2 separate regions of the Homo sapiens genome follow, and region 2 is linked to region 1. The links come from fine-mapping of genetic effects on gene expression. Tissue or cell type: prefrontal cortex. Region 1 holds a variant in brackets; the other region holds the start of a gene. All regions are shown on one strand. Distances are from middle to middle.

Region 1 (8,000 bases):
CTCTCTCCCGCTTGCAGGGCCGCCCCGGGCACCCCAGGGCTGCTGAGGGGCGGGCGGGCCGTAAAAGCCACGAGAGAGGGGCGGCAGGGCGGCGCGGCCTGCGAGCGCCGCGGGACCCCGAGGAGCGGCGCGGGGAGTACAGGGGCGCGCGGGGCGGGCGCGGCGCGGGGCTCACGGTGCGCGCGCGCCTCGGCCTCGCCCGCGCACACGCGCCTCCCGGAGGAGAAAGAGGCGGGCGGGCGGGCGCAGAGCACCGCGGCGGCGGCGGCGGCGGCGGCGGCTGCAGCAGCGGGCCGGGCCGCCGCGAGGGAGGGGAGGAGGGGCGGGCGCAGGGCCGGGGGCGGGGGGCGGCGGCGGCGCGGCGAGCTCGCTGCTCTCTCTTGAGTGTGCCTGCGCGCAAGCCGGGGAGCGGGTGAGTGCGCCGGCCGCTGCAGCCAGCCCGGCCGGCCCGGAGTCGGGGGCGGGGGGCGTCGGGAGCCCCGACCTGGGGGTGGGCGGTGGGCGGGCGGCGGCCGCTCTGGCGCGGCTGGGATGCACCTTGAGCGGCGCCTTTCGTTGCAGCGCGCGGGCGGCCCGAGCCTCGGCGGCGGCGGTAGCGGCGGCGGCGACGCTGACACCTCCCACCATGGACAGCTTCGACTTAGCCCTGCTCCAGGAATGGGACCTCGAGTCACTGTGGTAAGTCCCCGTGCCGGCCGCTTCGGGCGGGCGGGAGCGGCGAGGGGCGGCCGCGGCGGCCCGCGCGTCCTCACCTGGGCCGGGGGCTCCGGGCGGCCGGCCGCCGTGGGGGTGGGGTGGGTCGGGGGCGCCTGCCTCGCCAGCCCTTTTCTGCCTCCCCGGGTGGGATGCGTGGCCGCCTGCCCGTCTGTTTCCCCCTCTCCTGTTCCCCTCCCTCGCGGCGGCCCGCCCCAGCCCAGGGACTGGTGATCTAGGTAGCCAGGGGCAGAGCGCAGCCGTGGGGAGGAAAAGAAGCGATTTGAAGACTGTGTCACTAATGCCTGGGGATCCACCCGTCGGCCCCCTGCTCCTCTCACTTCCTTTCCCTCCGACTGCGCCCCCTCCCTCCTCCGGCTGGCACCACCGACCCCCTGGAGTTGGTGCTGCTGCGAAGTGCCCTTAGAGGATGCTCCAGCCTCCCCGCCTGCGCCCGGTCTCGGCTGCATCCTTTCTGTCTCTCCCACCCACTTCCACCGAGATGGAAAAGTGAACATCCAGGGCAGGAAACGAGTGTTTCTCCGTGCCGGTATTCCAGAGGCCTTAGCCCAGGGAGACTCCTTTCCTCGGGGTTCACAGTTCCTCTGGGCCCTTTCTTCACACCTCGTCACAGTTGCACTCCTCCTCCCCACCCCACCCGGGCGCCCCGGGTATCCCTTTATGCCACGCTCACAGCTCGCAGCCCGGGGGGCACTCCAGGTTCCGTTTCTCGGGGGATCTCACACTGGGGAGCTGCTGTAGGTAAATCGCCGCTGGAAGCAGTTTAATTCCAGTTGCGGGTGTCTTAAAAATCCCATTGGCTGCTTTAGTATCTGTCTTATTCCCCCTTCTTTCTCTGCTCCCCCCAACCCCCCACTATCTCTTAAATGTTTCCAACCAGCACTATTCAGGTGGTAAAATTACTGCCTGCATATTCCTGGAGGAACTTGTGTTATGTTTAATATTTACGGGGATGAACATCTGCTGGAACAAGCATATTAACTGCACTCTGTTCTGCCTCTGGTAATCGCTTATTGTAGAGCTGAGCTTTTTTTTTTTTCCTTTTGCTTTAATTCAGTAAAGAGTTCACATGTGTCTAAAACTGCAAGTGGTGTGCACATGAATATGCAATGTACAATTTTAAAGCTAAACTGCTTTATGATTTATAACATATAGATGATATGTGGATCTGTGTGTATTTTCTGTGATTTAGGTTTCCAGTGACTTTTATTTTCCTAAAGACAGGTGTAACAAAATAAACTGGACACAAAGCTAGCACATTATCAAACGGTTTCTTATAAAAGATCCTATGATGAGTAAGTACAGCTTGCTCTGCATAATGTTGGTGCCTGTAAAACACACAAGGACGGGCCCTAATGTAATAAAACTTTTACGTATTGCACTGGAAACTTCAAAGAGCCAGGGCAGAAAGAATATGAAACATGTTATGACTGTGTAAAAGTTGCTAATTACTGTGTTGCTGCTCCTGGGGTTATTTCAGCCTTTCATTTACAGATACCTATTATTTTATAGGTTTACATTTAGAAATGTTGGTTTCTGGCGCAAATTCAATAGCTTTCCAGATAGCAACTGTACTTTTAAAATGCTGTTTGCTTTTAAAAGGCAGTTTTTCAGTCAAAGGGAAGAACTTACTGTTTCGGTATATTTTTATGCTGCTTGTCTGCTTGCTGACTCAAAGCGAACCCCCTTATGACTTTCATAAGTAATATTTTGAGATTATCAGCGTAATTTGTGGGGTCTTCCTGCACAGAACCTGAGCTCTGTTTCCTTTTGCATCCTTAGTTCCCAGCTGAATTACCCTGGAGCAGTGTCACAGAATAAATATCTGTTGAATTGACTTGAAATTTACATTAGCAGTACATTTATTACTTTAAAAAAAACAAAAACTTACACGTTTTTTAAAAAGTTGATGTACGTGCAATCACATTTTAATCAGTGCATCGAGTTTTGGCTTATGAAGGCATGTAGACTTTCTTGATCACAATATACTAGGACAGTTTGGCTTGACCGGGAGGGTTTCTAGTTTTGCAGATGTAGAATTACATTTTACAAAAGCTTATATGTTTCTGATAAGTTAAAGAAAAACCAAGCTTGAGTATGCATTTCTAATATGTTTAGACATTTTCTCACAGATGAATTTTTGGATGCTATGTTCTCAGTTTTATGGTTTACGTAAATTTTTAAGTTTATGGTTACTTTTAAGCTTATAGATGGTTCAAAATAACTAATATTTGAGAACTTTCTGTGTGTCCAATATTTTCATATCCATTGTTTTCTTATTTGAATCTCTTAATCCTGGAAAGGGTAAGTAAGTGGTAGTAGTTCCATTTTATAGATGAGGAAATAGAAGCTTTGAACTGTTAAATGACTTTACTGAGGTCATAAAACAGATGACAGCAGACTTTTTAAAACTAACATTTGCTGAACACGTATTATTTATCAGACACTGTTCTGGGTACATTACATGTTTTAGCTCATTTAATTATAAAGCAAGTACTGTTATTAGTTCCATTTTAAAGATAGGAAAATTGAAGATGGGAAGATAGGGTAACCTGCCCAGAGTCACACATCTAAAAATGGGGCAGCCATATTTCAACCAGAAATTAGCTTCAAAGCCCAGTGATCTGACTTCAAATCCGGTCAGACAATTGCCATTTTCTAGAGTACTTCAAATATCTCTCAGCTTATAAGGACAGCTCTGAAATTAATTACAAAACAAAACCTCGATGGACTGGAAGTTAAGGTCCTACTAAAATAACAAAGAGAGAGAGCCCTAAATGGTATTAAAATTAAAAATTTGAAAATAAACTACCATAGTTAGGAAAGTATACCTGTTAATTATGAATTATTGTATTAGAGCAATATACATTTTAAAGACCATTGAAAACTTCTTCCTTTGATTGATCATAGAAAAACTTTTTTGAAGGAGGAAGGAGGAGGTACAGATTAATGGCAAAAGAGAATCTTAATCCCTAAGAACTTTTTCTAATTGATGGACATCATTTTCCAATTGAACAAATTGGAATTTATTAGTGGTGACTGTGGCTTTGAATCTGAGCTAGTTTATTCTTGCAGTCACAGAGAGTGTCCTTATAGAAAATA[A/T]AAAGGGAAAAGCTCAGTTCTGTTGAATATAATCAATATACACAATCAATTGATAATTCACAACTACCTCCTTTGCCTTCTTGCACACTCTTCCTGCCACTCAGAAACATCCATACTTACTCTTCAGGATGGGTTTTTTGAGCCTGAATTATCCAGATGGCTGTTTCAACTTTTTCAGCCATACCTTAAAGTTGAAAAGGATGGCCCTAATTTCCACCTCTAATTCCACTTCCAATTTCTGGTTTGAAGCAAGACTGGAGAACTTGGAAAAAGGTTAAGGTGTTCATTCAGCACCCAACACTGTAGCTTTGTTCTGTAGAGTCTTGAAGAGTTGGGCATTCCGTGAGTTTACAGGGGCAGCAGATATGCAGAGGCACAAGGCTGCCCCCTCCACTCCCTGGTCTTCCTTCTGTGGTCCACCAGCTTTTGATTAGGTGCTAGACATATAAGCCATTCCTCAGGGCCTTTAAAATAATGACCATCCCTTTTAACAGGCTAACTGTTGCTTTCATTTAATTCGTTTAACAAATATTTGTTGATCATCTCTTAAGTAGAAGACCTTGTGCTGGTTTCTGTGGGAGATGCAAGGATGAGTAAGGCGTAGGTTGTACATATTAGTGTTATTGTCAAGTGAGGAAATTAAGACAAGAACACACATGAAAAAGGAAGTTTTCAACACTGGTGATTCAGAAAAGAGACCATATTTGGGACTTGGGTGGAGGATGGAAAGAGGAAAAATTGAGTTAAAAAACAAAGGCTTCCATGAAATAGGTGGCCTTTGAACTAAGTCTTGGAAGACAGATGGTGTGGGTGGGGGTATTGAGAGTACATGGAGACATCTTGGGCAAAGAAAACTTGAACAAGGGCTTTCATGGTGTCTCTAAAAGATCATTTTATGCATCATGGTGGAATTACCTATACTGTCTCTTTTAAAGATGCAGAACTTTGTAGTCATGAGGTAGTTTCAGTGAATGAGAAAAGTTTTCCAAAATGAACTTGTATTTCATCTTCCTTAAATGTTAACACATTTTAATCATTGGAGAGAAAGTCTATCAACATACAACAGTATAATAAATATTCTGATCTTCCCTACCACTCACCCCATTCCTCCACAGCTTCATATAAGCCAGAATCCACACACTTTTGTTCAGATAGGCATTATTCTTTATATTCCTTTAAGTTGGAGCCTTTGAAGTTATAATACATGGATCATTTCATACTCATCAACCTGTTCAATTCAATAAGCATTCACAGAATATTAGACAGAGGAGAGGTACCATCAGGGCAGTGACTTTCAAATGCTTCAGACCATGACCCCCAGTAACAAATACACGTTTAACACTGCCACCCACCACCCCTTGAACATGCATACACGTAAGTGAAACAAGAGCATCATGAAATAACGCTTATTACTATGTGTGATACACTTGGATATTTCCTATCCTCTTTCTTTCTCTTTTTTCTTTTTTTTAGAATTTCCCATTCATAGGCTGAAACCTGCAGTTTAGGAAACCCTGCTGTACAGGATGCAAAGGACAGTGTGTTTTTTGGGAACTTAATAGGAGAATAAGCCATACCCATAAATACCTGTAATCCAAGGCTGACACTGCCTGCTTGAGGGGGCATGGGCACATCCTGTTGAAAGTAAGATATTCATGGTGGGGTGGCATTTGAAATGGGTCCTGGAGTAGAATTTCAGGAGGAAATGGAAAGGAGGAAAACCACGTGGTGGGAAGACTGTGAATAGAAACATGGAGGGAATAAAGTGTGGATCTTGTTTGGTGAAGGTAGGCTAACACAGGCAGGGAGGGATGCAGAGGCACTAGCAGTTTAGTCTCCCTAAGGATGCTGCCTAGTAGTGCCCGCTGATGCTTTTGCTTGTCTTCAAATCAACTGCCAGGGGGCATGCGCAGGCCAGTGGGCGGCTTCCTCCAGGCCTTTTTAGACTTTACTTCATAGTGCCAGAAAATGCTACAGATCCCTGATCTTGACCTTCAGGTGCCTCTAACCCTTTCCTCCAGCTGCAGTAAAGCAAACATTTTAAGGCCTATTCCTATCCTTTTGGTCAGTCCTTATGGGTCAAAACAGAGTACAAAGAAAGGGCAGAAGGAGAGTGCACCTGTCTGAGCCCCAGGTGTCCTGGAGCTGATTGGTAGACAGCAGCTCTGCAGAGCTGCGTGTACTCACACTGGCCGAAGGTCACCGTGTAGTTGACTGCGTGGCTCTCATTGGCCCTCAGCATGGGCCTGGAGGGGCCTCGGCAGGTACGAGGAGGCAAAGCCTTCTCAGAAGAGAGGCTTCCAGGGCTAGGGCTGTGGGCAGCAGTGGGGAAGGGGCTGCTCATCAGCCTGGAGGAGGCAGGGGGCCTCGATGGGAAGCAGTGGAGTGTTGCATCCGCTGTGGAGGAGCTCAGCCCTCGTGTGGGGTGTGTTTTGGAGAAAGCTGGGTGGAGAGACTGGTTAGTTCAGGGCGCCGAGAACTTGGGGACTCCAGCTGGGCTGGGGCCCCAGAGGATACCAGGGAGGAGGAACCCAGGGAGTGTGCACCTTAATGTGTGGATAGGTTTTTAACCAAATGTATCTGGATGACGATGAAGATGAGTATTGTGTGTGGGGAAATGATTCCTTCCTGTGTTCCAGATTCTCTTTTGTGAAAATGTAGGAGGGTTTTAAAATGCTAAGAATCTATTTTGGGAGAATGTCCTTGTTAACTACAATGGGTCTAATCAATGACACTTGAGCAACTTGAACGAAGACCTTTGGCTTAATACAGATTAATAGGCAAATTAAGAAAAAAAAACCTCTCAATATGGAATGCAAGATTTTGTGTGTAAGTGGAATTTTTAACCTGGAATAGATTTGCCTGTTTGATTTTTTTTTTATTTTAATTTTTGGGAATAAAGCCTTGGTGGCAAAATCGAGGCCCCATAAAAGACGATTTTAATATCATTTAATGGTAACATAATTTTTTTGTTGTTGTTTTATTTCAAAGTGAAATCCATAAAACTTATTTTCAATGTTGGCTGTTCCCTTTTGTCTTGGAATTTAATTGAGGTTTCTGAATTCAGCTGGCCCCAACCTTGCTTTCTGTTTGGCCCTGGGCAGCTCATGATTTTTCTCATTTCCTATTCTCAGTCTTGGTTTAATCACTTATAAAATGACAGCACTTAGACTGGCCTACCTCATAAGGTTGTGATGTTAAGTAATAAAAGTGTCAATTGCTCTGAATGCCAAATGTAGCTCTTCTATACCCTTTGCTTTCTTAAAAATGTCTCTTTTTCATAAACAAGGAAGAATACAGAAAGGCCGCATAAGGTCAGATTCAGCAGTCCATGCGGTGCAGCGTTCTGTCCCTGGCAACAGGACCCTGGGACGGTTTTGAGTAGAGGTTGGTAGCTTTTCTTAGTCGTGCATCATAGTCCAGCAGACAAATATGCTCTTACTTACGGTGGTACTACTCACATATGTAGATCTATTAACCATTACATAATCTTTTATGTTTCACTGAGAATGTATTGCATTACCAACCATTACATCGAATGACTTCATTTGGCACTGTGGGTCTCATTAAATTATGTCAGGCTAATCATAATTTAGTTTCACTGGAAACAAAATACACAGTGTTTATATCAGAGTAAGAGGACACCACCCAATCCAAGGAACTAAATGGGTTCAATCTAAGGAAACTACCACCCGGGATATGATAGGGGCCTTAAGTGTTTGAAGGCATTTAGCTGGGAAGTGGGAATAGAGTTGTTCTGGGTTGCTCAAGGGCACGAGTAAGATCAGTGGGTGTGAGAGCATTTAACAGTGATGTGATGTGGGCTGTCTCAAAGGGTAACAATTACCTGACTTTGTAGAAAGACATTCCTGGGTAGGCAGAGCGGCAGCAATAGGCTATCTCCGAGATTCCTTCCAGCTTCAAAATTCTATGATCATTCCCCTCACAGGGTAGCAGGAATCAAAGAGTGCAGAAGTCATTAATTGTATTCACTTGTGTATTTTTCCTCTGCAATTTCCCCACTCACCTGTGGAGAAAGGCATAGAGGGTACTTAAACTTCTTCACATAATTTCTTCCCAGGAGGCTCATTGTTAGCGGAGGTAAACAAAAATGACTGTAATTTGGAGACCACTTTAACATAGCAACTCCATTTAGAGAGTTATGTGCTTAACTTGATACTGGA
Region 2 (8,177 bases), 41 kb before region 1:
GTAGCTGGGTCTACAGGTGCATGCCACCACGCCTGGCTTTTCTTTTTTTTTTTTTTTTTGAGACAGAGTCTCACTCTGTCACCCTGGCAGGAGTGCAGCCGCGCGATCTTGGCTCGGTGCAACCTCCGCCTCCCAGGCTCCAGCGGTTCTCCTGCCTCAGCTTCCCGAGTAGCTGGGATTACAGGTGTGCGCCACCATGCCCGGTTAATTTTTATATTTTTAGGAGAGTCAGGGTTTCACCATGTTGGTCAGGTTCACCATGTTGGCCAGGCTGATCTCGAACTCCTGACCTCAAGCAATCCGCCCACATCAGCCTCCCAAAGTGCTGAGATTACAGGCATGAGCCACCACGTCTAACCACCTAGCTATTTTTTAAAAATTTTTAATTTTTTTGTGCAGACAAGGTCTCACTACGTTGCCTAGACTGGTCTCGAACTCCTGGCCTCGAGCAATCCTCCTGCCTCAGCCTCCCAAAGCACTGGGCTTACAGGCATGAGCCACCAATCCTGGCCAACTTTTTAATTAAAATGAAGACATTCTGCCTTAGAAGTAGTAGCTCTCCTTGGTATGAAATTTATAAATTTTACAAGCAGTTTACAGAATAGTGAGGTAAACAAACAGAATAACCATCATGATAATCTCCACCACTTACTGAATACTTATGACATCCTGCACACACACTATGTTGTTTAATTTCTACAGTCACTCTATGAGTGGGTACCGTATAGACGAGGAAGCTGAACGTAACATCCCCAAGTTACCCTTGCTAGTAAATGATAGAGGCTGAACCCAAACCCAGGTCTTTCTGGAGGCAGAGCCCACCCTCCTGACCATCAAATTGCCCATAGTATCATCTAACATGAAGGCAATGGCTTCAGCCCGCACAGGTGAGGAATTCTGCTTTGAGATGAGCAGGATGGAAGGGTTTTTAATATCCATGGGGATCTGCCAGATAGCCAATGGAAGTGAAGGCACCCTGAAAGAGGAAATAGCATGTGCAAAGCTGTGACATAAAGCAGCCTGAAAGTTCAAGAAACCATGAGTGGTGGTGGGATTGTTGGGTGGTGAGGAAGGAAGTGGTATCAAGGATGGCAAGAGATGGTATTGGGGAGTGGGCAGAGGCCACTGAATCCAACATCTCGCCTGCCCAGCGATGGAGCCTTGGGATTTTCCTGTGGGTGACAGGGAGCCATTGAAGCGTTTAAGGACTGGTCGTGGGGTGAGGGGAGTGTACTGTCATCATTTTTGTAGTCTTTTGCAGAGAAAATTTGGAGGCAGTTTGGAAAACACTCTAGAGCCTGACATGTGAGAGATGAGTTAGGAGGTCACGTGTCCCCACTTTTCTAATTTTGTATCTTCTTCAGCAAAAAAGTCTTTGCCGCCTATTCTGAGCAGATGTATGATTATTCACAAATGATATACAATACAACTGTATTCACACATTGCATGCCTTGAAACATACACAAAATGTAAACACTAAAAACATGACGTAAAAATAGATGTAAGTCTGGGAACTCGATGGAGGTGGTGGCTGCACAGCATTGTGAGTGTACTCAATGCCACAGGATTCCCCATCTTAAAACGGCTCATTTTATGGTATGTGAGTCTTAATTAAATACAAAAACCAGACAAGTGTGGGTAGATAGACATTCAATTCCTTTCTTCTCATCCTTCAGTGAACGGTCTGGTGTGCCCTGGGTGCACGTACCCCTTGGGGATTAGGGCAGTGATGAGAGGCAATGGAGGGAGGGTGTGGCTGTGGAGATGCGGACGGGAAGAAGGATCTGAGGAGTGACTGAAGAGGTAGAATGGGCAGGGCTTGGTGATGGAAGGTTGAAGAGTATTCAGCAAAGAGAAGAACGTGGGAAGCCTCCCCATTTCTGGTTTGGGTATAAGATAAAGAAACGTTTTCTCCTTGCCAGGGACATGAGGCAGACAATACTGGGATAATTTCCCAGGGCTTGGGATAGGACTGGGTGGGGAAGTTTCTAGGTATCCATTCTCAGGATAAGGACGGGCCTGTTTGGATGAGGATAATGGAGGGTCAAACCTGAAGAAGCCAGATTAGCAGAGGCAAAGTGAGAGATCAGAAGGTGGTAAACTCAGAAGGGGGTAGAGACCTGAGGAGCAAGCTGGGACAAGGCAGGAGGGAATTCACAGGCCACATGGTAAGTAATGAGTGGGGTAGAGGACAGAGCAGGGTTTCATTGTGGCGAGTCTGACGGGAGGTGCTGGGGGATGTTCCAGGAGAACAGCAGAAATGTGTGATGCTATGGATGTGGGCTTGGCAAGTTCCATCTGGAGCTGGGAAGAGGCCACCCATGGAGAACAGGAACCATGAGGCGGAGAGTGGAGCTTGCAGGAGGGCGAAAATTAAGACCAAAGAATGGAAGCCTGCCAGTGTGAGAGACCGCCTGACAAAAACCAGGAGAGTATGGAGTCATGGCGGCCCAGGCAGAAGTTCTGGGAGGAAAGAAATGGTCAACACTACAGGGAAGTCAAACACTGCCAGTGGAGACAAATAGGACAGGAACTGAAAAAGCATCCATTAGTGAATCCCTGGTGTCATTAGTGAAAATAATTCCAGGCATGAATGGGGAGAGGGAAGGGTGTCGGGCAGGAAGTCCAGTGCCCGTGGGTTGACTGAATGGGAGATGAGGAGGTAACACCCATCATGTAGGTCATGTAGAGCAGCCTTAGGACATCTGATTCCTTGCCTAAGACTCTTCTTTCCTGGTGTAGCTTTGTTCTAGAAAGGTCTGGAAGACTTGTCACAGTTCCAATGCAGGATGAGCCTTTGGTCCTGATCTCTTGGAGGCCCAGACAGCCTGGGAAACCAGCAGAGCTTTGGACAAGTTAAGCAGCCCATTGAAATCAACATTCTTGATAATCATATATCTAAGAGATTCCAAAATGTTCCTGGGATTCTTTTATGGGTCTGCATAGGGTTAGAAAGCACAGGAGTCAAAGAGACCTTCTCCCTTGGCCTCCAGGGCCACCATCCTCTGCTTTTGTCAGTTGGTCTCCCCAGAGTAGAGTCCAGGTTCCTGCTTCCAGCCTTCTGGTAGACCAGGCCCTGCCACAAGTGAGAGTTGGCCGGTTGGGTATCTGGTTTAGTCACTCGCCTCCACACTTTCACATCCTCTATCAACACCTGCACACTTGGGTTGTGACCACACATGCTCTTCCTGTTTGTACAGAAAGTGCCATTCAGAAAGCTCGCCAGCGAGAAGAGAGCTCCACGCTCAGCCTCAGAAGAAAGACGTTCAACGACTTACTGGGGAGAGAAAGAAAAGGAACGGGAGCTGAGAGGTAAGATCAAACTGGAGGGTGTGCGGGCCCTCTAGGATGCCTTGCCTGGAAGAGAGGTAGCCCCGACTTTGTGTCCTGAAGGGTGGCGCTCTAAGTAGCTGTGCCCATGCTCCGCTGGTCAGGGCAGGGGGAGCATTCTTGGTCAGCCTCACCGAGATGGTCCAGGCCCTGGTGAACAGCCAGAGGGATTGAGAAGGAAGAGATGGGATGTGACCAAAGTTGGTCACTGAAGCCGTCAGTGTGTGTGCGTGTGCATGTGTGTGTGTGTGTGTGGTAGAGGGTGCACATAAAGAAGACATAACCTGAGTGTGAACATGCTCACACACATATTTATGATGCTGGCTGGGGCCTTATGAAAAGTGTGTCTTAACCTCATGTTGCTCATTAGCTATAACCTCAAAAATAGAAACCATGACATGGCCACAGACTGGATCCCAGTCAATGGCCCCAGTGAGTGAGCTTGCAAGGAGAGATCATGGGCAGTTCCACCTAAGGCCACCGTCACTTCTGCAGAAATGACTTGGAATAATGACCTCCTCACTGTTAGGGGCTAACAGCACTATATTTGTATTTCTTGGATGGAACATTGTATATGTGTGTATTTGTGTGTGTGTGTCTGTGTATGTGCATAAACACATCATGTATTTATACACATGACATTGTGTGTATGTGTGTTTATGTGTGTATATATATGTACACACACATATGATATAATGCAATATACACAGTGACCAGATTTTTGAAACCAAAGAGAACTAATAGCAAGACAAAGGGGTTTTTTTCCTAATATGTGATTTCCTTGCTATTCGAGTCTCACATATATAAAAATGAAATATGTCTACACATGTGTTTCATAATTCCTTTTATTCAAAGAGGGGATCATTCAGGTAGCTAAAGGTCAAGTGTTTACAATAACAAAGTGGTGGTAAACTCATTCTTTGAATGTTGATCGTACAAACTAAATAATCCATCAAAAAATGTTGTCTCTGCCATTATTAAAAGCATGTGTTCCTTGGTGCAAAATTTAAGAATGTTCTAACTACAAGAGCACCTTCCTTTACCTAGGGCTATCCCATCTCACTGTTGAAGTGAAGTGATTACAGTGAAAGTAATACAGACATTTAATATTCTTAGTTTTGGTTGTGTTTCTGTCAACTGCTATTCCCTTGTTCTAGGCGTAACTGCACTTAGTGTTTAGTGGTGTTATGCATATGTATATTTGATTTGCATTTAGAAAATAGAAAAATATATACATTGCTTATTTTCCAGATTTCAAGGTTTAAATTCCCACTCTAACATGATGGTTTTAGGCAAGTCACTATACATCTCTGCATCGGAGTTCCCACATCTGTAACACAAGTACAATAGTAGATAGTAATCCCTTCCTCTTAAGAATTAAATAAGCTAATACATGTAAAGTGCTTAGACAAGTGCCTGGAACATTGAAAGGGCTCAGTAAGTATTAGCAGCTGTTATCATTGTCATCATCATCATCATCATCATCACTACCTTTTGTACAATTAAGCCATCAAACTTGAAGGGACATGGTAAGAGTTTGGGAAAGGTGAAAGGTGGGAGGTGGTGTGTGTAAAATGGGTTTGGGGGGTGACACTTAAGGCCAGAGCAGTGACATTACAGTCCTTACACTGTAGCTACAGACAAGTAGTGAGCAGGAAAGAGGAACAGCACAGAACACCCCTCCCTATGAGGCCTGCTTGTGAGAGGAACATGTTCTGGAGCTCTGTGGGCTTGATGACATGTACTCATACACATCTTGTACAGCAAACCAGGAAATAGGCACATGGAACGGTGACATCCAAATGATAGTATATAACATGCATTCAGTGCCTCTCAGGTGTGAGACGTGGTGCTCGGCATTTTACACACATTTTGTTATTGTATCTGAGCCATTGCAATTATGCTTATTTTAGAGGAGAGATTGGTAGGTAGCCTAAGAGTGCAGAGCAGGGAAATAGCAGCGTTGGGATCTGACCATCTCCAGATTCTGTGTCCCAATCCCCCACCCATCACACCCAGAATACAAAGCAAGTAGTAACAAAACGTGACCAGTGAGGACGTCCAGTTTCAGAGAGTTTAAGAAACAAGTTCAAAGTCACAGAGAAAGCTGAAGGCATGGTGAGGAGCTGGATGCTGGTTTCTAAATTCCAACCATTTTTTCTACACCACTACTCAGAGGAAGGACCTGATGTCTTGCCTATCAAGGTTGACAGCTATGGACCCTTCCATAAATAACTTTTATCTTCTGCACTTCCACATCTTTTTCTGTGAAGTGGGTGTAATGTCCTGTCCTACAGAGTTCACAGGATTTTATGAGGGCTCAATGAGTCTACATACGTAAAATGCTGTTATATTATTTCCGAGTCATGTAAGGAAAACGTGTTGAAATCCACCTTCGGTAAAGGCAAGTTAAATGGAAATGAAAAGTATAAATAATGTTGGTTCTTAATGACATGTCATTAGGTATGATTTAACTTGTTCTTTCAAATGACCCATTTGCACCCTCTGGAGCTGATGTTCCATAATTTGTGCAACCATTCCCATATATGAAAATTTAGTTGATTTCCGGTTTTTGAATATCACAAGTTAAATTGCAATGACTGTTCTAGAAATCCTTTAGTGCAATCATCCTATCTGTTCTTTTAGTATTTCCAAGTCTGACAAACAAGTCATATCTCATTTCTGCTTTCATTTGCCTTTTTTTTGGTTATTAGTGAGTTGATTCTCAATGTTTTAAAACATAGCTTTGACAAAAACTAAAAACATTATTCTTCATCCAGAAAACAGCCAAAAATACATGCTCCTTTCAAAGTGAAATGGCACCATTGTTCTCATCATTAAAATACAAGCAGGTGTTTGTGTACAAATACAAACCTATTAAAAAGCATCTTGCACAGATATTCCTCTTTGTAGTTTTTATCTGCACTAAAAATGGGGGGTTATAATGAATACAAGACAACTAGACTCCTGCAATAACTAATAAACACGACAATTTGATTTATTGCTGTTCCTCCCCTATAGCCTGTTGACAGATTTTTCTTTATGGAAAAATTACCATGGTTTAAATCTCTATCATATGGCACTTAATTCAATCGGCAATATGTTACCAATTAGATCCTGCTTAAACTACCATCAGCCAGCAGACCAGGGGACATGTTAAATGGAATGACAATCAGATAACTAGTAAAATGCTTTGTGGCAGCTTTCTCAGGACCAAGGAGCAATGTGGAGACCATGGATAATGAAGAGAGAAAGGGCAAATAGGGCTTTTACTTTTCCCCATCCTGAAAATTGAAATTGTTTCAAGTTCTCCTAAAAGCATGCAAAGAGTTTGTGTTTGAGTGGTGGTTGTATAAGTTGATATTCACCACTTCCCTTCCGCCCTTCATCCTCTTGCCCCTTTGATGATAAATTGGCAAACAGAAAGGCATTCTACCCCCAAATCCTCTCTAATGTAATGATGCATAACTTCAACTCAGTTGTTGTGTCCCATTTAGTGGTGTCTTTTTTTTTTTTTTTTTGAGACAGAGTCTTGCTCTGTTACCCAGGCTGGAGAGCAGTGCCATGATTTCGGCTCACTGCAGCCTCCGCCTCCTGGGTTCAAGTGATTTTCCTGCCTCAGTCTCCTGAGGAGCTGGGATTACAGGCGCCCACCGTCACGCCTGGCTAATTTTTGTATTTTTAGTAGAGATGGGGTTTCACCATATTGGCCAGGCTTGTCTCGAACTCCTGACCTCAGGTGATGCGCCCCCCGTTGGCCTCCCAAACTGCTGGGATTACAGGCATGAGCCACTGCACCCGGCCTACTGGTATCTTTTAAGATTTCACCTTTCTCCCAAGCCCTGGATGATGACCACAGTAAAGAGAAATCTTTTTAAGTGGTATGAGCTCCCTTTTTCTATTTTCCTCTTGGAGTCTGGTTGTATCAGATAGTGCTCCTGTTGCAAAAGACAGAAACTGAATCAGGCTATGCTGAACAAAATGTCAATCTAGCAGAACAATATTGGGGGCTGATTGACTTAAAATAGAGCAGCAAGCAAAGGTAAGAACACCGTTAAGAACCACAGGAATGGAAATGTGGCAACAGTCTGGGCCACATGATGTGGCTGCCACAGTGACAGATATGACCTCAATTGTCCCCATATTGGGATGTCACTTATTTAAAATCCCAGAAAGAGGGGAGAGAGTGATGACCCCTGTTTAGATCACATGCTTGCCCCTTGAGGAAAGGTAGACCCTCCATTAGACTTCCGGCCTATCTCCCACATCTATGCATGGTGAGGCATCCCCAGAAGGAAGACTGCGGTGGTAACAGGAAGGGAAGATAGTTGGTGGTGACAGCAAAAAAATCACAAATGTCTTCCACACAGTCATTGCACGGTGAGCTCTGAGTGGAGGCTGGCTTGTTATCATGGGCAATCTAATCGTTGGTGGGTTTGTTTGCAGAAATAGGCATACAAAAGGGAGAACTGGCAGATGGCCACCCCATGCTTCCTGCATCCTCATTCTGATTGCTTTGCTTCCACAGCTGGGAGTGGAGTATGAAGACCAAGGAATTCTCTTAAAGACCTGAGCAGTTATCTGGAACTCCTCACAAAATCACAGTAATGGATATTATTTCCCAGTTCCTACTCTACACTGGGCATAGATGTTATGGACATCTTCTGAGTCCCACAACACCCCTGCAAGGCAGATATGATACACTCCTTTCACCTATGGAGAACGGAGGCTCAAAGAGGCTAGGTGACCCTCAGGAAACACAGATGAGAGGTCCCCGCCCAGTCTGCCCAGCTCTGAAATCTTCCATGCCAACTCCCTTAGGGCGATCCTGAGTCTAGGCTGTACAG

Evidence for each region. PIP is the estimated chance that this variant, and not a neighbour inherited with it, causes the effect.
Region 2: AFF3 starts here. The variant in region 1 is fine-mapped to the expression of AFF3 in prefrontal cortex (BrainSeq, PIP 0.95).

What each region holds. Positions count from the first base shown.
Region 1 is chr2:100,097,080-100,105,079 of GRCh38, reverse strand. It overlaps AFF3 (ALF transcription elongation factor 3), which reads left to right. Exons shown (of 25, transcript NM_001386135.1): 4 at 562-678. The coding sequence starts at 626. Among named protein-coding and RNA genes, the nearest start is that of AFF3, 42 kb to the left of the region's middle. The variant A/T (reference allele first, on the strand shown) is at 3,817.
Region 2 is chr2:100,137,619-100,145,795 of GRCh38, reverse strand. It overlaps AFF3 (ALF transcription elongation factor 3), which reads left to right and starts at 3,206. Exons shown (of 25, transcript NM_001386135.1): 1 at 3,206-3,312.